Homo sapiens: one gene and its partners. The protein of the gene in region 4 interacts with the protein of the main gene of each other region in a biochemical or structural test. Each region holds a gene or a part of one and is shown on either strand. Other genes may lie near its edges.

Region 1 (7,215 bases), on a different chromosome or scaffold from region 4:
GACACTTCCTGTAAGAGGATCATTTTCAAATTAAAAACTAACATTTCTCACTCTTCCTAACATTCAAATTGTACTGAACTTAATTTTTTTTTTAAACTTAAATCTTGTATCATCCTTGACACTTCTTTCTTATATGCCCGCCATTAGCATTATCTACACAAGACAGGCAGAATCTCACTCCTCCTGACCTCTGCTGCTACCACTACCACCCCCACCCTGGTCCAGGTCACCACCACCAACTTCTTGCTGTATGGCAGGGGCCTCTTAACTGGTCTCCCGGCTTCGAAGCTGGCCTCCTTAAGTCCATTGTCAACACAGGAGCCCCAAGTCCTAATCTTCTACTCAGAACCCTCCAACGACTTGCCATCTCACTCTAAGGAAAAGCCTCTGACTTTCCAAAGACCTATGGAGCCCCATTCCATCTGAAAGCCATTTCTTTTGACCTCAGTGCTCATTCTATTCCTGTCACAGCGACCTCCTTGCTCTTTCTGGAACATACCAGGCGCTATCTCCCCTTAGGGCACTTGGATTTGCTGATTCCTCTACCTAGATCTCTTTTCCCCCATGCTGCATGGCTTCACCCTTTTCCTTCTTAGGTCTTTGCTCAGAGATCACCTTCTCAGGGAGGCCTTTCCTGACCCATCTCTTTAAAACCACAACCCCCCTTCCTACACCTTCAGTACTTCTTAACCTCTTGATTTCTCTACATAGCACTTACCACCATTTAAGACTAACTTATTTATTACACTCCTCTTTTGCTATTAGAATATAAACTCTGTGAGGGCAGGGATGTCACTTTTGCTCACTGCTATATCCCCAACACTTGCAATGGTTCCTTGTATATAACAAACATTCAAGAAGTATTTTTCTTTTCTTTTTTAGTATAAATTATTATTTTTTAAATAGAGACAGGGTCTTGCTATGTTGCCCAGGCTGGTCTTGAACTCCTGGGCTCAAGTCATCCTCCCACCTTGGCCTCCCAAAGTGCTGGGATTACAGGTGTGAGCCACTGTGCCAGGCCCAAGAAGTCTTTTTGAATGAATAACGTGACATTTCAAAAAAGTTGTATGATCTTAAGATGCTTCAGAGCAATCATTATGAACAATTATCATGATACACTTAAATACTCCCTGGCTAAATTGTTTCAGATAATCCCCTAAAAGCAGCAAGTCTGAGTTTTTTTTTTAGATTCACTGAAAAAAATCAAGAGTGCATACAAAGACTACCACTCAAGGACAAAAAGGTTGTAAAATGAGTCAGTTTTTCCAGTCTTGAACATAAATCACTGGACTGGAAGGTATCTCACAGTGGTCCTTAAATTATTTTCTACCTTCAGGCAGCCTTCACTGATCCACTGCCCTATTTTTTCTTAGCATTCCAGAGAAGGAGCTTTGTTGATCTCCAGTTCAACCTGTTTCGGGGATCGATAACCATAATTAATTCTGGCCAGAGTTTCGTTTGAGCCTCAGAGGTCAAAGCTGCAGTGAGCAATCTCGCCACTACACTCCAGCCTGGGCGACAGAGTGAGACCCCGTCTCAAAAAAAAAAAAAAAAAAAAAAAAAAAAAAGTTAATTATATCCATTAGCCTGGAACCAACATTAAAGGGTAAGTTTTCTCCTGCTTCATTCAATCCCTTGATAGAGGAGATGCCTACATAATTCATAAACTGTTAATGGACTTTTTTTTTTTTTTTTGAGACGTAGTCTCACTCTGTCGCCTAGGCTGGAGTGCAGTGTCGAGATGTCGGCTCATGCAACCTCTGCCTCCTAGGCTGAAGCGATTCTCCTGCCTCAGCCTCCTGAAAAGCTGGGGGTACAGGCGCGCCACCAGGGCCAGATAATTTTTGTATTTTTAGTTAAGACAAGGTTTTACCATGTTGGCACTCAATTCTCATTATTCTGAGGGCAAGCATTTTAAAAAGACTGATCAGAATTAGTGATCATGAAATGAAGAATCTTACAAAGCCTTAGAACAATCAGTTCCACCAAAAACTACACATTATTTAACGCTGTATCATCAGAAAACTGCATCCACAACTTTTAGAAAATAAAGTTAATATTTGGAAGTCACAAGGTTGGTAAGTGGCAGTGTCACCGTCTGGTCCCGATTTCAAGTCGGACAGTCCCTCCCCAACACCGCCTAGGAAGTTATTAAAACGACCGGAAAAGAATTCCATAATCCGTTTCTTAACTTGCAAAGAAACAAAGCTATCTTTCCAATTCAAACAAAACGTTAACACCGCTGGCCAGATATAAAGAAAAACAACGGGCCGGGCACGGTGGCTCACGCCTGTAATCCCAACACTTTGGGAGGCCGAGGTGGCAGGATTACTTGAAGCCAGGAGTTCGAGACCAGCCTGGCCAACATAGACCGCGTTTCCACAAAAATAAAAAAAAAGAATAAAACAAAGAAAAACAACGATAAATAAACTTAACAGCTTTAAAGAAAAGCCACGACCACAGAAGGTTTACAACGAGTCATCTGCGCCAAGCAGCGGCACCTGAGACGCTGCGGGCGGGGAGGGTGGGGTCCGAGCGCCAGCGCTGACCGCCTGGGTGGAGGCCGCCCCGGGCCCCGGGCCTCGACTACCCTGCCGCGTCCGGGCACCGGCGCTCGGCTCCCACCCGGGCGTCTGAGCCTGCGGGCACCTGCGGCCGCCGGCGGACAGCGCGTCAGGTCTCACCGCCGCGGCCCTCGCACTGGCTCGCCGCCTCCAGACCCTGCCCCTCAGCGCCCCCGGCCTCCCTCGGCGCCGACTGCCGTGACGATCTAGGCCCGGGACCCCGCACGGGTCCCGCACCCCTGAACAGGCCCCGCAGCCGAAACGAGCGTCGCTCCCTCCCGCGTCCCCTCGATTTCCCCGCAACCCGCACCTTCTCCTCATGGCGGACGCTCCAAGCAGCCGTGAGTCCAGGTCCAGACCTACTCCACACGGCCCCGAGAGCAACAACCACCCGCAAACACCGGCGATGTCACTCCGCGTAGCCGCTCCGCGAGCCGTTGAGCCCCGCAAAATTTCAAACCGCGCCACGGGGCGAAGCCTCGTCGCGATTGGCGTCGCGTCCCGTCGCTCCAAGAAAATCCCCGCCCCTCGGGCTGAAGTCGCGGGTGCGCAATCGGGGTGGGGACTCGCGAGCAGGGCCTGGGAAGCGCCGGAGTGGCGGCGGGGGATGACGTCACTGTCTGTGAGTGGCCGGGCGTGGCCTGCGCCTCCCGCTTCCCTGGCTTGGCGGCAGCCTCAAGGGACTCCTCTCCCAAGCCAGCTACCTCATCGGAGCGCCGCCCCGCCTCGCCCCGCGCAGTTTGGATTCGAAGTGCGCGGGCGGGGAGGGAGTTGAGAGCACCGCGGCTACCTGGCTTCCCTGAGTCCCGGCTGCCGGGAACGGGCGCGGGGGTGAATAGGTAAGTTAGCGCCTAGTTTCCCTCGCTCATCCAAGAAGCGAAGCTTGGAATCGATCTTTGGTGGGACTCTTCCCCAGATGTAAGAAGCCATACACTAAAGGGGAAGGGAAGGAACATTGAGTCCTGCTCATGGGCCTGGAACGTTTCAACGCCAGTTATCCCATTTAACCTCCACAATCGCCATTGCAGAGGAAACGCAAAAAGATTTGAATGATTTGCCTAAGTCACGTTATCAAATTAGATGAGTTTCTAAATCGTTACATGAAAAATTTAAAACTCAAAATAGACATTACTTTTGTAGCCTCCTTTCCTCGATGAACATGTTACATCCCTAAATGCTTATATATCACCGTTTTTTCCCAGTGATTCATGGTGGCATGGTGGCATGAATCCTGGTGTGTAGATATCTCGCCCATTCTGCTATTGATATTTAGATGATAATTTAAAAGATAAGGCTGGGCTGAATATCTTCATACATAAATCTTTGTGTATGTATGTATTTATAAATGCATCCTGCATTTTCGTACGGCTGATTCCTAGAGGTGTAATTACTGAATGCTCCCTTTATTAATTTGCCTTCTGCACAAAGCCTCACCGGAAAAGTACCCTCCTTTTGTTACCCTCAGCAGGGCTGAATTCTATTGTACTTCTAAACATCTTTGCTCATTTTGTAGGTAAAATAATAATACTGGCATTTCCTTGTTTGGCACTTGATTATAATTGAAATTGCACATTTTTCGTGTTTATTGGCCAACTGTAACTTAAGTGAATCCTCTTCATATGCCTTTTCCCTAAAGGTAAAGGATGCTTGTTTGCTTCACCTTCAGAACCATATTTTTCTTATTTTCAGAAAAACTTCATTAGTGCTTTCAATGTTCTTTTTACTTTTTTTAATTGAGACGGAGTCTCGCTCTGTCACCCAGGCTGTAGTGCAGTGGCCCAATCTCAGCTCACTGCAACCTCCGCTACCTGGGTTCAAGCAATTCTTGTGCCTCAGCTTCCCGAGTAGCTGGGACTACAGGCACGCACCACCATGCCTGGATACTTTTTTTTTTTGTATTTTTAATAGAGACGGGGTTTTGCCATGTTGGCCAGGCTGGTCTTGAACTCCTGACCTCAGGTGATCCGCCTGCCTCGGCCTCCCAAAGTGTTGGGATTACAGGCGTGAGCCAACGCGCCCGGCTTCCATGTTCTTTTTAACTTGTCAGCAGCATGCCAAACATTCACAGCACCAACACAGTGGGCGACAGGCACCACTTTTTCAATTTCCTTGCACTCTGTGATTAACATTGACACCACTAATAGAGTAGATGGTAGCACTACTTTTAAAATTTACTTGCATTCTTTGTTGATTAAATTAACAGGAGAGCTTTTCAGAAAGCTTCACAAATTTGTGATCTTCATACTTGTTCTTAGCACCAGCATTATGAAGTATCCAAAGAAAAGGCAATTTTTTCTCTCTTGTCCTTTACACTGAGGTGCTGAGGCTAACAAAGTCATAGAACTGATGCAAAGATATCCATTCAGAGCATAAACGCAGCATGTAAAACACTGTGTAATACGCGTTTATAATATATGACCTTAGCCTGGGCACTGTGGCAAAACCCTGTCTCTATAAAAAATACAAAAATTAGCCAGGTGTGGTGGTATGAGCCTGTAGTTCCAGCTACTTGGGAGGCTGAGGTGGGAGGATCACTTGAGCCCAGGAGGTCAAGGCTGCAGTGAGGCATGGTCACGCCACTGCACTCCAGCCTAGACGACAAAGCAAGACCCTTTCTCAAAAAAAAAAAAAAAAAAAAAAAAAAATCCTATTACAGGGTCATATATTTCTACTGGATGGAAGTGCAATGTTTTGCCACTGTTTAATCTTTTTCTGATGCCACCTATTCTTTCTGTGAATTAACAGCCCTGTTGGCAGTGTCTTTGGTCTTGCACACTAGCTTGACATAACACTCAAAATTCTAGCTAGATGCTTGAGGAATGCCTTTTCCTTGGAATATATTCTTATACAGAATTATCATTATTCTTATTTATTTATTTATTTTTTGAGACAGAGTCTTGCTCTGTTGCCCAGGCTGGAGTCCAGTGGCATGATCTCGGTTCACTGCAGCCTCTGCCTCCTGGGTTCAAGCGATTCTCCCACCTCAGCCTCATGAGTAGCTGGGACTACAGGTGCGCGCCTCCACAGCTGGCTAATTTTTATATTTTAGTAGAGACAGAGTTTCACCATGCTGGCCAAGCTGGTCTCAAACTCCTGACCTCAAGTGATTTGCCTGCCTCGGCCTCCCAAAGTGCTAGGATTACAGGTGTGAGCCACCGTGCGGGGCCCAGAATGATCATTATTCTATAGGAAGAATACTTTTGATGATCCAGTAACTCAGGTTTTGATTTTCTTTCTTCCTTTTAGTAAGTGGCAGCACTGTGGAATGGGGAACAGATGGAAGAATGAGCAGCTGGGAGGCACACTCTTGCAAAAACCCAGGCAAGAGACAATAAAGACCTCTGTCGTAGGGATGGTGAGGAGAAGATGAACTAGAGACATTTAGAAATAAGAACCAATAGCACAAGGGAACCAGCTGAAGGTGGGGCATAGAAAGAAAAAATCTGAGGTCAAGAATACAATTTTTTGCTCATTTGAACAAAGTTTGGGAATACAGGAAGAAGAGCAGATTAAAGGATTCAAGTAGGGACAGGAGCTTCCACTCATGAGTTTATTTTGTACATGCTGAGTTTGAAGTGCCTGTGGAATGACCAGGTAGGAAATACTTGTGTGGCGCTAAGGAGTGAGATGAAGGCTTGAGATCTGGAAGTGGATGACAACAAAGGACAGAGAGAGGGGAGATGTCAGCAAATGGGATGAGCAGAGAGGAGTAATCAAAGAACAACCTAAGAGACTGTGGGAGGACAAAGAAAGGGTATTATGGAAGCTGAATAAGACAATTTCAAGGAAAGCATAGTCATCAGTGAGATCAAGTTGGAAGAGGCCTGAAAAGAGGCCACTAATATAGGTGGTTGTAATTCCTTCTTTTTTTTTTTTTTTTTGAGACAAGGTCACAGCTTACTGCAGCCTCGACCTCCTGGGCTCAAAGGATCCTCCCACCTCAGCCTCCCCAGTAGCTAGGAATACAGGTGTGTGCCACCACCCTCGGCTAATTTTTTTATTTTTTGTAGAGACGGGGTCTTCCCATGTTATCCAGGCTGGTCTCAAACTCCGGGGTTCAAGCGTTCCTCTTGCCTCGGCCTCCAAAAGTGCAGTGATTACAGGCATGAGCCACAGCACCTGGCCTATATTTCATCATTTTTAAAAGGTAAAGAGAGAGAGAAAGGCTACTAGCATCAGTAATGAGGAGGGTGCTGGCACATTTATAGGAGCACTGTTTGCTGATGCCTGAAATGGCTCTAATGGCACACAATCTTTCATTCTGCAATAAGAAACAAACGCTTAAAATTGAAGTGCCTCCTTAAATTAAAACAACAAAGTCATTTTCTCAAAAATGTAATGAATCACAACATTTTAGAACTGGAAACGTGCTTGCTGGTCACCTCAGCCATCTCCCTCATTTTATGGTAGAGGAAACTCAGGTACAGAGTGGTAGAGTGATTTTTACAGGGAAGAACCAGACCAGGCCTGGAGCCACTACAAAGTCCAGGCCAAGAAGCACAGGAAGCCCCTGTAGCAAGCTCCAATGGGCTTTCACTAATAAAGATGGAAGTGCGTGTCCAGAACGACCAACGTATTACATCTGAGAGCAGAGGCTTTATTTACAATGACATTCAAACAGGATTTAGCAAAGGATGCCTCTTCCTGCTCG
Region 2 (7,614 bases), on a different chromosome or scaffold from region 4:
CACCTTGACACTGGCCCAGCAGAGTCCTGAAGCCTTCAGCCAGCCCCACCTCCAGCCTTTGCCCCAGCTGTGCGCCTGATCGATTCTTGAGACCCAAGTTAGAAGCCAGCTGTAGGGGGCTTTCCCCGTGCCCCAGGCTGGGCCCAGGGCTTCCTTGCAGCCTCCACAGGCACAAGCCGGCTTGCGCTGTGTCTGTCCCACACACCAGCTTGCCCTGTCTTTCCCAGGCTGAAACTCTCCTAAAGCTCCCTGTCATCCCAAAGTTCAATTCCTTCCTCTGGCTCAGGCCAGTGCCCACCTCTCTGGCCTTATAAGTCTGACCCCGGGGGGAGGCAGGAAGGAGATGACAAGAAACACAGAGGGGACTAAACCATCCAGGAGAAAGACAGCGAGGAAAAGGGGGAAACATTTGGAAGACAGCTGGGACACCACCCCCAGAGGGGTCTCACAGACCAAAACATGTAGAACACCAAGAGAAAGTTCTAGCAATAAAGCCAAGCAACGCCACAAATGCTACTCACAGGCACTCTCCCCACTATTTTTATTACTATTTTTTTTTTGAGACAGAGTTTCACTCATTTCCCAGACTGGAGTGCAGTGGTGCGATCTCAGCTCACTGCAACCTCGCTCACTGCAAGCCGCGCCATCATGCCCGGCTAATTTTTTTTTTTTTTTTTTTTTTAGTAGAGATGGGGTTTCACCATGTTGGCCAGACTGGTCTCGAACTCCTGACCTCAAGTGATCCGCCCGCCTCGGCCTCCCAAAGTGCTGGGATTACAGACGAGGGCCACCAAGCCTGACCTCACTTATTGTTTTTTAAAACCAAAAACATCTCAAAGCAAACAAGGGAAAGCTCCGCAAACAGCCTGGCAGCAGGAAACCCACGAGAGTTTCCCCGTAATAGGCGCCTCCAGGCGGGGGAAAACAAATTATAAGGGTGATTTATTTTTATCTTATTACAAACAGGTATTTTCCAAATTTTCTATGAAGCACAAGGAGATCTTTCCTTCCAGAATACTAGCAAACACAAAAAATTTTATTTTGTGAGTGCTTAAAAAGAGAAAAACCTGAACAAACTTGCTCTCCACCCACGCAGGTGATTCTCCACCCACGCAGGTGATTCTTCACCCACGCAGGTGATTCTGACTTTTGGGCAGTCGTCAGAAGATCAGATAGAAAACCTGAGTATCTTGGCGTTAGAATGAGTTGGACAGAGAGTGGATGTTGCCCCGGGGGCTTCAGGCACCATACCGGACATCCAGCATCTGAGATGAGTTAAAACGCACAGCTGGAGGTGACTTTCGAGATGAGGGTACACTTACAACATACAAGTTGTTTATGGCGCTGGGACCTGAGGTATCTAGTCCGCATATACAGTGACACGTATGCATTTACTGCCACAAAGATGGGTAAAAGTCAGGAGAACGCACTTAAGAGCCCAAGCGACATACTTAATGTCTGCTTGTCTAGGAGAGCAGGTTGACTCAGGACTTCAAATATGCTGGGATCTGGAGCCATAGTAAAGAACACATATGCTTGCCTAAAACCCAGGGATACCTTCCACAGCAGGAGCAGCACATCAAGATGGGACGATCATATTTAAAAACGACGGTTAAGGTGCAACCTAAAGTAAATCTCACATCTTGGCAATCGTGTGCAAAACTGCGCGCCTGACATCCCTATTGCACAGGGAAGCCCATCTAGTACTTGCACTGAGGTTTAAAACCTTGGGGTGCATGTCTGAGGACCCGGAAAGCACTTTTGAACAACTAGATGCGAATGCTGCAGGAAGGGGCGAAGGCAGTGGAGTGAAGGGGTACGTTTAAGTTGTGGGAGGTGATCTAAGTCTCGGTATCCATGTTTATGACCCCAGGAAGCCTGTTTAAGGTTTCAGTAGGGCTGCCACAGCTCTGTGCCATCCACACCGCTGAGGCAGTGTATTTAAGAAGCGGACCCGAGCGCGAACCCAGGGGAAATCTCACATCGGGGCAAGCGTGTGCACGGTGCAAAGTCGCGATGTGCGGTTTTACAGCCCCAGGTAAACCTTACGGTTTCTGAAAAGCATGTGCATCTTTTGGGTCCGGAGAAGCGTGTGCAGCCCAAAGTACCTGCGAAGCTGAATGTTTACGTTTAAGGTCTGGGCTCACGGCAGTCCATCAAAGCATCCCACATGTGGGCGCGGGCGCGTATTCTAGGTGCGCACTCCACGGGCACGGAGCGGCCGCCAGGGGAGAACGCCCACGGGTGCGACATCTGGGGGCGCTGGTACAAAGCGCGGGCCCCTCCCTCGCCGCTGTCCCCCAAAACCGCCCCCATTTCCAGGTTTCCTGCCCGGAGAGCGAGCAACTCTCCAATAGGAAAAACAAGCGAGCGTGCCGGCTGCCTGTCTGCCGCCCCCAGCCCGCGTTTAAATCGGGCCGCGGAGTCAGCAGTAATATGAGCCCGCCCCGCCCCCGTCCCCCAACCCCCCACCCCGGCCCGAACGCGCAACAAAGGGGAGAGCGCGGCGCGAACCACCGGGTGCTCCACGGGGGAACCCGGCCCCGGGCGGGACCACCCTTCGGGCCACAGGGGACACCCCGGAGCGGCGGGGGCTGCGGACAAAGGCGTGAGCCCGGGATAGGGGCTGGGGGGGCGGGGCCGTGGAAGGCTCTGGAAAAAGGGCGGGGGGCTCACCATGGGAGGGGCCGAGCGGGCCCGGATCCGCGGAGGCTGCGGGCCTCGGGGGCTGGCAGGCCAGGAGCGCGAGCGGACGGCGCGCACCACGAGGGGCCGCGGAGGGCGGCCGCGACCCCCGAGGGGGCCCCCGGCGCCGGAGCGGTACGGGGCACGGCGCGGACGGACCATGGCGGGCGCGGGCCGAGCGGGCGGGGAGCTGCCGCGGGCCACAAGGGGGGCTGCGGGCTCCACCGACTGAGGGGCGCGGGCGCGGGCGCGCGGCTTCGGGGGAGACGGGCTGAGCCGTACCAAGCTCGGGGGACGCGCCGCCGGAGTGGGGTCGCCGCGGCCGAACCACTGAGGCGAGCGGGGGAGCCCGGCGCGTACCAAGCGCGTCCGAGGGGGCGTGGCCGGAGCGTACCAAGGCGGCGCGGGGGAGCGGGGCCCGGGCGGGAGCGGAGTGTGGGCTCGGCGGTCCTGCGGGCCTCTCCGGCGCGGGGGAGTCCTGGGAAGACGCGCGAGCCACAACTTCAGGGGGCGTGGCGGGAACGGGAGCCCCTACCGAATGGGGTGGCAGAAGAACGAAGGCGACACCAAGCTGGCCCCTTGCGGGGGTCGGGACGGCGGGAGACCTCATCCGGAGCCCTGGGCCCGCAGAGCCAGGAGACCGCGCCAAAATACATCAGGGAAGAGGGGAGGACGGAATAATGGGCCTGGGGACAAAGGAACCCACTGAAAGGGAACCCACTGAGGGTACGGATTGCACCCGAGCCTGAGACAGCTGAAGGTTTGCAGTCGGTGACGTGGCGAGGTGGGCAAGGGACTCCAACTCCCAGCGGGCCCCGCGCGGCCTGGGCGGGGCCAGCTGTCCCTGGAGGCTCCGCCCATTAGCCCCGGCGCCCAGGCTCCGCCCGCCGTCCCTGGCGACTCCAAGCTTCTCGCCACTCACGTCGCTCCCCGGCCTTCCGTGGATTCGCTCATTCGCTCTGCTAAAATGGAATGACTACTTACTAGTAGTTGTATAAGATTTTTCCCTCGATTTTTGTTCCTTAAACGTGGGTAATACCTAACCCTAGAGTGGTTATGGGGATCGAGCCCGAGGGGCTGTGCTTGACTGCTTGGCGCAGTCACTACTCAAATGTTAGCTTTTCTTTAAAAACAACAACAAAAATCTGTTATGAGTACCCTGTCCAGTTCTGTGCTCGGCGACGACCGAATCAGACCACGTCCCTCACAGGCCCCACGGTCCACTGGGGAGAGACATAATCACAGGCTGTGCTAAGTGTTAACTAGCGCACATCCACAGGGCGATGGGATATGACCATAGCGAGGTAAAGTTAGCAAGCAAGGGAAGTCAAGAAAACGACCTGTGAGCAACCTGCCATTCCAGATGGCTGGAAAAGTGTGCAAAGAGGACAGAACAGCAAAGACAAATCCTGAAAGTAGAAGGAATAAAAGGGAGCCAGTGTGGGCGGAGTCGAGTGAAGGTAGAGAGGAGAAATAGACACAGCTGTAGGAGGTTAGAGACGGAGTCCCTACTTCTGTTTCGGATGTTGACTAAACAATGTAGATAGATATTGATGTCATAGCCTGGAGAGAGAAATTCGGGAGTCATCAGTGTTTGAATGGAGACTGGATGAGCTCACAAAGAGACTGGGACACTCATCCCTTTAGCAGTCACGACAATGAGAAGCAACCAGCAAAGGACACGGAGGAGTGGCCAGTGAAATGGCAGAAGAACCCGTAGGCCTGTCCATGTTTTCCTGCCCAGGGGCTCCCGAGGGCTGACTGGAGCCCAGCCTTAAACCCCAAATCCAACCTGCATTGTGGCCAAACGGAGTCAGTGCTCCCTGAACACAAACTGCAAGTTAGTTATCAACAGGTACCTCCAATGCCCTGTCAATCACCCATGTGAGGACAACCTGGCAGCAGGAAGGAGAAAAAACAGGAGCTGCTTTAATCTCCCGGAATCCTCACTTCTCCCCATTCTTGTTGGTCCAAACCATCAAGATCTCTTGCCTGGGTGACGTCTCCTAACTCTTGCTGCCTTCTCTGTCACTACAATAATCAAAACCATCCAATGGCTTCCCAGTGCCTTTAGAATTAAATCCAAACTTGGTACTGTGGCCCCTGCTGCCGCCCCCCAAAAAATCTCTCTCCCATCCTTCCTGTTCTCTACCTGTTAATGCCTTCCCATCCCTCAGAACCCATCAGGACACACGTGAGTTTGAATGCCCTGAATTGTATAAGCATGGAGAGCGGTATACCAGGGTGTACTCCAGAGTGAGCAAAATGGGAACTCATGTCAGAAAGTGAAATGAAAATGTAGGCTGAAATTCTATCAGTAATACTGCAACAAAACTCTCTGAAACCATCTCACTTAACTCGGTCCACCAACTTGAAAGACACTTTCCTTTTCATCTGTGAAGCCCACTGCTGGGGCTAGCAGGCTACTATTATGACTAAGCAATTCCACTTCCATCTCTCAAGCTGTTTACTTCCTGAAAGGTAGCTGTTTGATCCAAACCTGTTTATGCCAGAAGTTCTTGTTTAATTTACTATCAAACTAATGAAATTAATGCAAGACAGTTGTTTATACACAAACCAGATTGCTTGCTTTGGAAAGACTAAAAGGGAGTTGTTAAAAGAAAAACATGCCAGGCGTGGTGGCTCACACCTGTAATTCTGCACTTTGGGAAGCCGAGGTGGGCAGATCACTTCAGGTCAGGAGTTCAAGACCAGTCTGGCCAACATGGTGAAACACCGTCTCCACTAAAAATACAAAAGTTAACCGGGCATGGTGGTGTATGCCTGTAGTCCCAGCTACTCTGGAGGCTAAGGCAGGAGAATCGATTGAACCCAGGGGGTGGAGGTTGCAGTGAGCTGAGATCTCACCACTGCAACTCCAGCCTGAGCAACAAAGCAAGACTCCATCTCTTAAAAAAAAAAAAATGCTGCCAAGTTAGGTACAAGTAAAGCAACTGTAAATTATTTAATGAAAAAGCTTATAAAAACCTAGGAAGACTCAGCCCCCAGTTTGTTTCATAAATGTCTTTAGGTTCTCAAGCCACTTAAAAAAATGACTCATTGTGGTTTGTGGGTGGAGCTTATACAAGAATGTGATGTTCTACTGGGCGCAGTGGCTCATGCCCGTAATCCCAACACATTGGGAGGCTGAGGTGGGAAGATTGCTTGAGCCCAGGAGCTCGAGACCAGCCTGGGCAACACAGTGAGACTCCCACCTCTACAAAAACAACAATAATTTTCTAGGCATGGTGGCATGCACCTGTGGTCCCAGCTACTCAGGAGGCTGAGGTGGGAGGATCTCTTGAGTCCAGGAGATTGAGGCTGTAGTGAGCCGTGTTCACACCACTGCACTTCAGTCCAAGTGACAAAGTGAGACCCTGTCTCAAAAACAAGAATGTAATGTCGTGTGCTAACTAGGAGACCAATACTGAAAGAAAGGGTCTTGGTCCTACGTACAAGAGATGTCTGTTTAAATGTTCTTGGTTAAAATAAGATGTTTAAAGTGTTAAGATGGCCGTTAGTGCTATTTGCCATATATTTCTAGCTCCACACTTGGCCAGCATTTGACCCCATTTAGCTTGAGTGCGGCCATGTGATTAATTTTGGCCAGTAAGGTGTGAGGCCATGTGATTACATCTGGCCAATGAGATATGAGCAGAAGTGACACATGTGAATTCAGCAAGAGCACATAATTGCTAATGGAAGACCAGACCCCTCTGCCTTTACTATGTCCATTGGCAACCTTCATGATCTGTCCGCACGGGCTCCAAGCTGACACTCAATACAGCACGAGTGACAAAATCCACCTTGGCTGTTTCAAGCCACTGCAATCTGGGGGTAATCTGGCCTTTCCTGATATACACAATTTTTTTTTCCCAAATAATCCCAGTTTAACCAACATTTGTTAAACCAATCAACTACCAAGTCTGAGTTTCCTAGAAGAACAAACTGGCAGTACATATAGGTTGGATGACATAGGCTAGGACACAATGACAACATGGACAAAGTGTTTTATACTGGCCGGGCACGGTGGCTCATGCCTGTAATCCTAGCACTTTGGGAGGCTGAGGCAGGTGGATCACCTGTTGTCAGGAGACCAGCCTGGCCAACCTGGTGAAACCCCATCTCTACTAAAAATACAAAAATTAGCCAGACGTGGTGGCAGGCGCCTGCAATCCCAGCTACTCAGGAATACAAATACAGTCTCCTGATTGATCCTCCAATTCAAGCAGGAGAATTGCTTAAACCCGGGGAGGCGGAGGTTGCAGTGAGCTGCACTCCAATCTGGGCGACAGAGCGACATTCTGTCTCAAAAAATGCTAATAGGCTGGGTGCGGTGGCTCACACCTGTAATCCCAGCACTTTGGGAGGCTGAGGCGGGCAAATCATGAGGTCAGGAGTTCAAGACCAGCCTGGCCAACATGGTGAAACCATGTCTGTACTAAAAATACAAAAAATTAGCTGGGCATGGTAGTGGGTGCCTGTAATCCCAGCTACTTGGGAAGCTGAGGCAGGAGAATCACTTGAACCCAGGAGGCGGAGGTTGCATTGAGCTGAGATTGTGCCACTGCACTCCAGCCCAGGTAACAGTGTGAGACTCCGTCTCAAAACAAACAAATAAAAAAGATAATAAAATGCTTTATGCTAAGAAATGGGAGTAAGATCATCTCTGGCTTGGATTTTTCTTTTCTTTCTTTGCAATTACAAAATAGTTTATGGCTGATTTTTTTTTTAAAGGTCTGCCTGATACATGCTTTGCAAACTCTAGGTATTTCAACTTTGTCATCATCGTGTGTGTCCAGACGCAGAGGCTCACACCTGTAGTTTCAACACTTTGGGAGGCTGAGGTTGGAGCATTGCTTGAGCCCAGGAGTTTGAGACCAGCCTGGGCAACATAGCAAGACCCCATCTCTACAACTATAAAACTAG
Region 3 (7,031 bases), on a different chromosome or scaffold from region 4:
GAGAGTATCTGCTATATCAATGAACTTTGAGGGCTGCAGTTGAAAGACTATTATTATAGGACCAAGGTAAGTGCCCTGCAAGAAATGTCTATTTCTTGACTATCAGCTACAGCAAAATGAAGACAGAGAGAGAAGAGAAAGAGGAGACTTATAGTGGTCAAGAGATGAAATCAGCGTAATAGGTTTCAGGAGATGTATTGGCTGCAGATGAAATGGATTCTTTTAACCAGGTTAGCAGCTGAGTATGCATGAGAATAGAGTAGTTCCGACACTGAAGAATGTGGGAGCATTCTAGAAGTATTATGGAAAGTGAACACACCGGGGTTTTCAGAGGCAAATCTGTGGTGAGTGTGTGCTTAGCTGTACGTCTCCTGATGGATTCTCCCTGCATGAGAGAGGCTATTTCTAGGTTAGCAGGAATTTCTGGTGACTTTAATTCATGATATTAAAGGTAAGTAAATTGAGTATTCACTTTAGAGGAGGTCTCCGTGGATAAGCCTGCGGGAGTTGCTGTGCTGATGAGACTTGGCTGTCCTCATAAGCAGTGACTCCCATCAGCTGGTGTCCATGAGCGTGAGCAAGTGTACGCTATGTACAGGGCCAACAAGCGAAGAACTTTCCATTAATTTTCCCTCCATCTCCTACAATGGCTCTTCTTCACAAAGAAGATCATCACTGTGAGGCATGTTCTCGTGGCTCTGGTGGGCTGGCGTGAAGCCCCTCTACTGACTCCCTGTCTACTCATGGGGAAGGCAGGTGGCTGGGGTAGCCATAAGACATCCCACTGATGGTTTTCAGGAAATGCAACCTGTAACCCCGGCTGCCTGCCACTCCCAGAGCCAGGAAGAGGGAGGACAAATGCAAGGGCCAGAGAAGACGAAAGGCAAGAATAGCCTCTTAGGAGAAATTGTGTGTGCTAAGCCCGCTTGTATGGGGCTCCCTCAAGAGAGTTCAGTGTTCTTTAGCTGTTTCTTCTTTTTTACTACGTTTTTATGAAGTAGGATGATTTCAGAGCATTAAGAGTGTGCTGATAGCCATAAAGGAAAAAACTTTTAAAAACATTGAATCAGGGTTTGATAGGAAATGTCCACACTTCTTAAATTTGTATCAATATCTAAGTGATTTTCACGAGTGCTATTGTGTGTTTTTTTCTAAGGATGATCTATTCCCTCAGATGTCAAGCCAAGCTCCTAATTCACCGATCAGAATTGCCTGTTATCAAATGTCCAGACTTTTTATCAAAGGAAAATCAACGATGAGAGAAATGAATGCTTTAAAATGCAAATGAGTTTAAAGGGAGGAGATGAGTTAAGACGAGGGTCTGATGGGACATGAAAGGCAGGACCGCATCCAAGCCAATCACTTATCTTTACTCTTGTTTCTAATTTCTCAAAGACCCCAAGTTTCAGCTTCATCTCATACACTCATTATCATCTTTCAGAGAGCCAGCACCATCCCCTCATTTCAGTGTCTCGAGGTTCCCATGACCCCCGTTGTGTGTGAGCTCCCGGGGGGCCCTGTGGGCACTGGCACCCATGTGCACGTTCATTCAGGAGATGCTGGTGGGGCGGGCTGTGTCCATGACAGCACCTGCCAGTGGGATCTGCTCAGCGTCCACCCTCCCTAACATTTGCGGGATGATGCTTTGAGAGAAACACAAGAAACTTCAGGCAGAATCAGAATAGTCACCATAGAAAGACCAGAACACCGAACTGTCAGGGGAGAGAAGACAGTAAAATGTCTCTGTGTAGTAAAAGCAGATGAGTGAGCAACTGTGACCTTCCCACACAGAAGCACAGGTCAGGTGAGAGAAGACAGTAAAATGTCTCTGTGTAGTAAAAGCAGATGAGTGAGCAACTGTGACCTTCCCACACAGAAGGGCAGGAGCTCGGGTGCTCACACTTACCTGCCAGCTGTGTCACCAGGCCACAAAAATGCCGGCAACACAGCACACTGACGTGGTGGGGGCAACCAAACCAAAAACGACAAATTAAAGAAGTTCGCATGCAATTAGTACACTGTCCTTGGTCTGTTAAACTGTTTAATGAATGCATAAAAAGGCAGAAAAATATATAAAGCCAAAAGCTCATAATAAAATTAAATCATGATACAACCACCACAGGCAATTACCATCAAATACATTCCCATGATTTACAAATGTATCGCTTATACAGAGGAAGTTGCAAAATCACTGCCAGTACAGACACATCCAGTCTAATTAACTATCGTCTATTCATACAACAGCAACAACTGCAGCTCCTGAGACCACAGAAGGACACAGTGAGCAGCTGGTGACTGAGCCAGGGTAGCCTCCGATCAATAACTGATCAGAGTAATGAGACTTTGAGAGGAATGCCTATAAGAAATCTCAAAAGGTATTTGTTTGGGTGCAGAAACAAATGCACCCTCCACATTTGGATTTTCTCTAGAAGAATCTGTGGCCAAATCTCTTATCCAATGGAGGTACTGAGTGGCTGGATCAGTTACCATGCAAGCTCACGATGAATGAGATTGAATTTGGTTCTGTGTGCACACTGGGCTCTGGGGAGGGAGGACACCCCTGTGTGTTGCTGCTGCCTTCCGTGCTGTCTACTGTATCCTTCATGTGTCTCCAAATGGTACACGCCCCATGGGATTACAGAACACAGCTACAGAATTAGGATCTCATGGTAACAATGAGGAATTAGGTTACTGTAGAACTAAAATATGTTTAATGAAATTAAAATGCAATGGAAAAAAAATCAGGCAACAGAACATTCTGATGAATTTACAGGACTGATTATATCCCACGGCACTGAATGACAAACAGTTCTTCTCCATACAGTCGCAATTAGAGGCATAGAAGTCATACTGAATGCTGAATAGAAGAACACTGAGAAGAGCAGGTTATAAATGAAGGTTTTCACATAAAACAGAAAAATAGACAAAATCATCGGTAAGAAGCTAGCTTTCGAAAACCTCCCTAAAAGTACACGGCACGGAGAAGTGGGGTACTGGGATGTCCTGGCTGCTTTCTGCTTTGGGAACTATCCAAGTGGCACATCACCATGTCCAGCTTAGGTGTCTTGTGAAACCTTACTTCCTCCACATAAAAAGGAAGGAACGGTTTCCAAAGCTAATGTTTCCAGGCTCTGCCTCGTGACACTCAAGTGGCCTCAGATATGAGCACTGGCACAGAGTGATGCTGGAGAGGTCACTTAGAGAGAAGCTGCCGGGCCAAGCACACGACAATCTTGGCCCTAAGTGCTCACCCATTCCTCATGTGACCCTGACATTCCGGGGAACTGGGAAACCTGTTCCTTAAAGGCAACAACAGTCCTTTCTTTCCTCTCACAACAAAGGAGCATGTTCTCCGTGAATGCACTTTTCATTTACGGCTCTCAAAAGAATATGCCTTCTCAAGGAATTTTTAATGCACTTTTCTTGAATGTCAGCTCCCAGCAACACAAGCATGGGTGTTGTTAGGGCATTCCCGGGCTCGGGGGCGGCCGCTCCAACATGTGGTACCAGCGGCCATGTGCCCTCAAGGGGAGGGAGGAAGAGCACAGGAGGGTGGGAGGAGGACAAACAGCCCCTTTTATAGGGTCATGGGGGGGCTCCACTCAGAGTCTGGCAGGAATCTGCCAGGAAAACCTCGTTCTAGATAGGGAGAAGCAGAACTGTGTGTGGGGCAGGCCGCCGTGGTCCTGAGAGACAGGGCCCGGGCCTTCCACTGCTCGTTTGCACACCTCTTCGGCCTATCCCAAGGACCTTCCTAGCATATAAAAACAGGGGCTCTCCTGATTTGTAAACAGAACAACAAATAAAAATAAAAACAAAACCAAAAATTCCTCCATGGCAGCCCACCCAATGAATACCCCAGATTTTTAGGGCCATTGCGGGTCTGTAGCTGGGTGTAGAGAGAGTTAAGCTTTCATCTCCCATGTTTACAACACTTTGTGATAAAATAGTTGAGTGGAGCAATCACATCCCCACTGCGTGCGCTCCCCCGGGATGCCTCACAGCTGCTCTGTGATCACACGTGCAAATGTTATTATTATTATTTTTTGCCTTTGGCATCAAAGGGCAAGCCTGTTCATTAAAAAATCTTCTATATTCAACACTCCATAGTGAAAAGAATGGATACTTCAAAATTCCTAAAGCAATCATGTGAAAATTATTTTTATTTTTAAAATTTTTGAAAGTGTTTTGATTTTTATGGGTCCTTGATAATTGGCCAGCCCTGTTTTGCAAAGAGATGGACTATTTCTGAGACTAGAATGTTTTCTTTGAAAATATTGAAGAGTATAAGAGATTTAAGACAATAAAGGCTGTAATCTTACCATAAAGGAAGAAAAACATCTATGTGTGTCAATATTGTTTTGAGATAAAGTCACAATGATTGATATCAATGCTTTCACCATTTTATTTCAACTTAAACCAGTGTCACTCACATGAAGCTTATTTTATAATACATATTATCCAGTGATTTCATCTTTTCTGCACAGTTTAAGTACATTTTTTTTTTCTGTACCTTGAAGTAAGCAGAATAGTTCAAGCTTTCAAAACTGGTGATGCTGTATGCGTGAGGGATGCTTACATAATAGCAACGCTTTATTGGGCAACCCGAATCCATACATGTCTGGTGTGGTTTGATAGCTGGGCTTGAAAAAGTGCTTCCAGTTGAAATTAGCATTAGAAATCGGTTAGAACACCAACATTTCAGGGTGAGGGAGGACTGCTACAAAGGAAAAGAACATGTCTACAAATGCACTGAAAGAACTAGCCAGAATATGAATTCCATTAGTATCTAAGACACACAAAATGTCATTTACAAATAAGTCACGGCAAGTGTCACAACCTGAAATCTCAACTCAGACAGATGGTAGAGATGTTAACAGTTGCCTGAAACTTCGATGTGCTTTCACGCCCACAGGAAAGGTAAAACTGACATTTGTGTTTCTCTTCAACAATTTCATGATCAATAAAGAATTGCAGTTGGAGACTAAAGCAAATTCTAGAAACTCCTTAACTCCAAGTTGCCCTATGGTTTTTATGATTGCATGTTATCAGAATGAGGCGCTCTGTTCCACACTTTATTCAAAAGCCTTTTACGCTCCCACAAGGCCTTCTGGAATTCCAGAATCAGCCCTGCACACAGGCAGAAAAACAGCTTCATCTTACAGGTTGTGTGAGAACACCCAATAAACTAGGGACTTTTTTGGGAAAAACTTCTTTCTCTCCAAAATTACACAACCACCAAACACTCTAAACATCACGTAAAATACTGCATCTGCAATCTGAATGGCACTCAGGGACCAGCGCTTTGATGAACCAGCAGCCACAGGTTCTCCACTGACAATCAACTGCAGAAACCACTCCTAGACTCTGGACCCCATAGCAGAGTTTTTTTTTTTTGTAATACATTTTTATCCACATTTGCTTTTGAATAAAGAAACTTCTAAGACTCTGTATGCAAATTAATGGAATCACAAGATAATAAAGCTTTGATTCATAGACACTCATTTATCCCTCCCCCCTTCCACTTCTCAGACCACAGAGAACGTTTGCTCAAGGCGGATTTAAATTGAGGAGTTTGTTCAAAAGTCTTCCTCGACCTCAATCCTATGATTGTCGCAGAGCAACATGAAGCTAGCAGCACTGACTCCAGGAAAAAACGAGCATAACCCAGTGTTGAACCCCAGCGTGTGGGCTGCAGAGGCAACATCAGTCATCAAGTCCGCAAGCACACACCACCAGAGACCCTGAGAATGTGGCTCTCTTTCTGCAACGCCCATGTCCAGGCACCCTTAGAGATCCAGAATTCAGCATGTCCTTACATTCCTGAGCCACACCCCGGCCACCATCCCTTGTGAGGAAAAGAGGGGGTGAGTTAAACGAAAACGTCCTAAGCAGCCACTCAGGCCCACACTCTTGGGCTCATATGCATTCTCCAGCACGGAACGAGACCTTAGACAGCAAGAGGCTACGTGCCAGTTCTTCCTCTAATGGCTGAGTTCACCTACTGATTTCTCCTTTGCTTTTTCCATTTAAACTAAAACTCCTCTACTCCTCAGAGCTCACCTTGCCAGAGCCCCGCTTGGGCGCACCCCTGTCACCGCCAAAGAAGCGCCCGATGGAGTCAAGGATGCCCGTGTCTCTGTGCCTTGGGAGGAAGCCATGCCTGGCATGGTCCATGGTACTTGCTGTGGCCAGGTACTTGGATCCGTGCCTCTGGGAGGGTCTCTTCTGTGACGCCATCACATCCAGGCTCTCGGAGGTGGCTGCACTGTCTTCTTGGATGGTCTGGAGCTCGTCGGACTCAGAGGGCCTGTCTTTGAAGGTGTTGTCCTCCCTCCCCGGGGCATCTCGGGAAAAGAGGCGGATCAAGTGGGGGCGGCTCCCTGGGTCAGCTGGGTGGGCATCCTGCCAGGCATTCTTCGGGTCCGCTGTGCGCTTGGAGTCAGTCACCGCTGTGTCCTGAGAGGAGGTCCCATTGTTCTGGTTCGCATCTGCCTCTCCTGCAAACAACAATGAGATATGAATACGGGCCTGTGCAAAGCTGAGCACCGGACAAAGCAGCTTTCTCTGAGGGGTCTTGACCTAGCTGTCTCCTATAAAACCCACAGAATATGTGCAGTCCTCATAAAGCCCTTGGCCTAGGATGGAGCTAACCTGGATGGAGCAGCCTTATTGCAGCTCTGTGTTTCAGAAGGCTCTGGGAATTCCTCAGTTACTCGAGATTTGGCACCCAGCGTAAAATGCACCCAGGCTTCCCGATGAAGTCATCTGAGCATGCAGAGCAGCCACATCAGCGTTTCTTCCCGGGTGCTGCCATGGCTGCTCCCGGAGAGCCCAGATGTGCAGGCACCTTGATGGGACATTGACTGTTTAAAAGGCCACTGGTGCATAAGTTAAATATGCAAGGAGCATTTATTTGACAAAAGGTGTTTTTAGTTTTCTTGGTAGAAACAAAACTTGCCACATCTTTTTGCAATTCATGCATGAAAGAAGTGGGGCATTTAGAATTGTTTCAATCCCAGATTCCACAA
Region 4 (4,725 bases):
ACATGAGAACACTACATCTTGACCAACTAGGACTTATTCCAGGAAGGAAAAGTTGTAACATTCAAGAATCAATGTCCTCACTATGCTGTACGTTAGGTCACCAGAACTTACTCATCCTGCATAATGGAAGCTTCGTGCCCTTTGTTAATACTGTACACTTGAGATTTGCTGAGAGTAGATCTTGAGTATTCTCACACACACAAAAAAATGGTAACTATATGAGGTGATAGATATGTTAATTAGCTTGACTGTGGCTATGAGGTCAGTGTTTACATATATCAAACATCAAGTTGTATACCTTAAACATATATAATTTGTTAATTATACCTCAAAGCTTGGGGGAGGAGTCAATAAAATTCACCATATTAACAAAATTGTTTAAGTTCTAGGGTACATGTGCACAATGTGCAGGTTTGTTACATAGGTATACATGTGCCATGTTGGTTTGCTGCACCCATTAACTAGTCATTTACATTAGGTATTTCTCCTAATGCTATCCCTCCCCCCTACCCCATGACAGGCCCCAGGGTGTGATGTTCCCCACCCTGTGTCCAAGTGTTCTTATTGTTCAGTTCCCACCTATGAGTCAGGACATGTGGTGTTTGGTTTTCTGTCCTTGTGATAGTTTGCTGAGAATGATGGTTTCCAGCTGCATCCATGTCCCTGCAAAGGATATGAACTCATCCTTTTTTATGGCTGCATAGTATTCCATGGTGTATATGTGCCACATTTTCTTAATCCAGTCATTGACGGACATTTGGGTTGGTTCCAAGTCTTTGCTATTGTGAATAGTGCCACAATAAACATAAACGTGTACATGTGTCTTTATAGTAGCATGATTTCTAATCCTTTGGGTGTATACCCAGTAATGGGATTGCTGGGTCAAATGGTATTTCTAGTTCTAGATCCTTGAGGGATTGCCACACTGTCTTCCACAATGGTTGAACTAGTTTACAGTCCCACCAACAGTGTAAAAGCATTCCTATTTCTCCACATCCTCTCCAGCATCTGTTGTTTCCTGACTTTTTAATGATTGCCATTCTAACTGGCATGAGATGGTATCTCATTGTGGTTTTGATTTGCATTTCTTTGATGACCAGTGATGATGAGCATTTTTTCATGTCTGTTGGCTGCATAAATGTCTTCTTTTGAGAAGTTGTCTGTTCATATCCTTTGCCCACTTTTTGATGTTTTTTTTTTTTTTTTTCTTGTAAATTTGTTTGAGTTCTTTGTAGATTCTGGATATTAGCCCTTTGTCAGATAGGTCGATTGCAAAAATGTTCTCCCATTCTGTAGGTTGCCTGTTCACTTTGATGGTACTTTCTTTTGCTGTGCAGAAGCTCTTTAATTAGATCCCATTTGTCTGTTTTGGCTTTTGCTGCCATTGCTTTTGGTGTTTTAATCATGAAGTCGTTGCCCATGCCTATGTCCTGAATGGTATTGCCTAGGTTTTCTTCTAGGGTTTTTATGGTTTTAGGTCCAACATTTAAGTCTTTAATCAAATTTGAAAACTACATATCTCAATAGATACCGAAAAAGTGTTTGACAAAATCCAACATCCATTCTTGATTTAAAAGTTAGTTTAAAATCTAGTTAACCTCTCAGCTAACTAGAAATAGAAGGGATCTTAGCTTGAAAAAGGCTGTCTACAAGAAAAACCTGCAGGTATCATACTGAAGTAGGGAACAAGACCAGGATGCCTGCTCTTGCCAGTTTTATTTAGCAGTCCTATAGCCCTAGCCACTAAAATAAGGCAAGAAAATGGAGAAGGCAAAATTGGAAAGGAGACGAAACTGTCCCCGTTTGCAGTTGATATGTTGTTTAGGTAGAAAATCCCAAGGAATCTATAAAACAGCTATAGTGAAGTTAGTGATTACATTTCTGTGTATTAGCAGTATATAATTGAAAATGGAATTGTTTAAAATCTATTTACAAGTACCAAAACCCAAAATATTTCGGAATAAATAACCAAAAAAGTCTAAAACCTCTGTAATGAATACTATAAAGCATCACTGAGAAAATTCAGTAAGATATAACTAAGTGGAGAAATATATGACTGCGGTTTGGAAGACTCAATACTATTAAGATGTTAATGCTTACTAAATTGATCCAGAGATTTAGTCCAATCCTAATGAGAATTTTAGCTGGCTTTTTCATTGAAATTGACAAGTTGACTCAAGTTTAAATGGAAATGTGAGTGGACCTATTTCTTTCTTGGGCTTTAAAAAAGAGCCTATGTGTGATTGGTCCCTTTCCCTTTTCCTTGACATAGCAATCATGGAAGCATAGAAATGGTACTTCTCTCAGCCTAATATTGTTCACAAAATGAAGAAATTCAGGTCTAGAAGTGATCTGCTCAAGGTCACGCAGCTTGCACACACATGTCTTTGAACCAACCCAAGCAAGGCAGTCTGGCTCCAGAGTCTGTAATCTCAACATCCACATTCTATATTCCTACTAATTTGTAAGAGAATTGCTGTTTCTCTACATACCTGCCAACTGACCAGCTTCTTGAATATTTACCAACCTGAAAGGTAGAAAGTAATCCTTATTGAGGTTGAGTGTATTTTTACATTTTCTGGCTACACTGATTAACCTGTGAACTACTTGTTCAAATCGTTCGCCTGTTTCCCTTTGGGTTGCTTGCCTTTTCGTGATTTGTAGCTCCTGCCTTCATAACCATCTTGCTTGTTTCAGTGACTGACCCTGAGGCTTGTTACATTGGCACAGAGCCATGGAAACCCAAAGAAGCTGTGGAGGAGAATGGTGTTATTACTGACAAGGCAGACATATTTGCCTTTGGCCTTACTTTGTGGGAAATGATGACTTTATCGATTCCACACATTAATCTTTCAAATGATGATGATGATGAAGGTATGAATACAATTTCTAACATAAATCCCAATCTCTTCATTTCACACTAAAGATTATATAATTTTATCTTTCTAAGATATGTATTAGTACTGATGACTGATTTGGTACCACCAAGGTTTAATCTCACACAAATGAGACATAGATTGAGAATAGGGAGAAAAATTGAGGCTATCCAGAGAAGCAAAACATTATCTTAAAAACTCCCCTTTCCTGAGAAAATGATTGATTGGAAAACTATCACAGGAAGGGTAAAAGTAGGGGTCGATAACCTATAAATCCAAGACTAAAGCAAATCTACTTGATGGCAGGACAATTGAAGACATTTCCATTCTGTCTGTGGCAGAATGGAAAGCATACTGGACCATAAATTCTTGTTTCAGGAGAAGGGTGAGCTATTAAACTTTTCCATGACATAAAGTGATTTTGTTTATTGTTTCAATCTCTAACTCCTTCAAGATAAAACTTTTGATGAAAGTGATTTTGATGATGAAGCATACTATGCAGCGTTGGGAACTAGGCCACCTATTAATATGGAAGAACTGGATGAATCATACCAGAAAGTAATTGAACTCTTCTCTGTATGCACTAATGAAGACCCTAAAGATCGTCCTTCTGCTGCACACATTGTTGAAGCTCTGGAAACAGATGTCTAGTGATCATCTCAGCTGAAGTGTGGCTTGCGTAAATAACTGTTTATTCCAAAATATTTACATAGTTACTATCAGTAGTTATTAGACTCTAAAATTGGCATATTTGAGGACCATAGTTTCTTGTTAACATATGGATAACTATTTCTAATATGAAATATGCTTATATTGGCTATAAGCACTTGGAATTGTACTGGGTTTTCTGTAAAGTTTTAGAAACTAGCTACATAAGTACTTTGATACTGCTCATGCTGACTTAAAACACTAGCAGTAAAACGCTGTAAACTGTAACATTAAATTGAATGACCATTACTTTTATTAATGATCTTTCTTAAATATTCTATATTTTAATGGATCTACTGACATTAGCACTTTGTACAGTACAAAATAAAGTCTACATTTGTTTAAAACACTGAACCTTTTGCTGATGTGTTTATCAAATGATAACTGGAAGCTGAGGAGAATATGCCTCAAAAAGAGTAGCTCCTTGGATACTTCAGACTCTGGTTACAGATTGTCTTGATCTCTTGGATCTCCTCAGATCTTTGGTTTTTGCTTTAATTTATTAAATGTATTTTCCATACTGAGTTTAAAATTTATTAATTTGTACCTTAAGCATTTCCCAGCTGTGTAAAAACAATAAAACTCAAATAGGATGATAAAGAATAAAGGACACTTTGGGTACCAGAAGGTGTCTCAGCATTATTTTATACTTCATTGATTTGAGTGTTGTCATTAAACTTGAGTAAATGTGAGGTTTCTTTCCCTCTCTTGGCCTTATTTTGCTAATCTATAAAGTGTTTTGGATCAGTAGTTTCTGTAAGCCACAGTCCCCTGGGAATTTTCCAAATTACTGAATTGCCAATGTAGGTGGTATACCTACATTTGGGTGTAGACAGAATTTTAAAAATTACCGACACAGGGCGTTCTCAGAAACATTAGGAACAACTGCACTCTGAACTTTAAAAATGCCTAGAAATCACTGAAGGCCTTTTGGTATAAGATTGTACCAAGCAATAGGACACAACATTAATTTGCATATATTCCATCAAAATAATGTGACAAGTAAATTGGAAGTTGTCTTAATTTGTAGAAAAACGTATGTATAATTTTGCATCCTGATACTCAATAGGGTCTCTTATCCTCACTCTGACATGTGTCACTCTTCTTTGCCAAGCCAACAGAGCAGCTTCTCCAGGGCATT

Evidence for each region.
Region 1: the proteins of PBK (region 4) and PRC1 form a complex in vitro, tested with the Homo sapiens proteins (one study listed by BioGRID).
Region 2: of the proteins of PBK (region 4) and PTOV1, one has a biochemical effect on the other in vitro, tested with the Homo sapiens proteins (one study listed by BioGRID).
Region 3: of the proteins of PBK (region 4) and MBP, one has a biochemical effect on the other in vitro, tested with the Homo sapiens proteins (one study listed by IntAct).

What each region holds. Positions count from the first base shown.
Region 1 is NC_000015.10:90,991,533-90,998,747, forward strand, and holds the start of PRC1 (protein regulator of cytokinesis 1), read right to left. Parts: upstream 3,004-7,215; 5' UTR 2,886-3,003; coding exon 2,875-2,885; intron 1-2,874. UniProt on the Homo sapiens protein: Key regulator of cytokinesis that cross-links antiparrallel microtubules at an average distance of 35 nM. Essential for controlling the spatiotemporal formation of the midzone and successful cytokinesis.
Region 2 is NC_000019.10:49,846,562-49,854,175, reverse strand, and holds the start of PTOV1 (prostate tumor-overexpressed gene 1 protein), read right to left. Parts: upstream 3,018-7,614; 5' UTR 2,848-3,017; coding exon 2,677-2,847; intron 2,609-2,676; exon of another isoform or gene 2,500-2,608; intron 1-2,499. UniProt on the Homo sapiens protein: May activate transcription. Required for nuclear translocation of FLOT1. Promotes cell proliferation.
Region 3 is NC_000018.10:77,010,769-77,017,799, forward strand, and holds part of MBP (Golli-MBP), read right to left. Parts: intron 6,501-7,031; coding exon 6,064-6,500; coding exon of another isoform or gene 6,046-6,063; exon of another isoform or gene 2,025-6,045; intron 1-2,024. UniProt on the Homo sapiens protein: The classic group of MBP isoforms (isoform 4-isoform 14) are with PLP the most abundant protein components of the myelin membrane in the CNS. They have a role in both its formation and stabilization.
Region 4 is NC_000008.11:27,809,107-27,813,831, reverse strand, and holds the end of PBK (lymphokine-activated killer T-cell-originated protein kinase), read left to right. Parts: exon of another isoform or gene 1-2,664; coding exon of another isoform or gene 2,665-2,697; coding exon 2,698-2,874; exon of another isoform or gene 2,875-3,330; coding exon 3,331-3,527; 3' UTR 3,528-4,208; downstream 4,209-4,725. UniProt on the Homo sapiens protein: Phosphorylates MAP kinase p38. Seems to be active only in mitosis. May also play a role in the activation of lymphoid cells.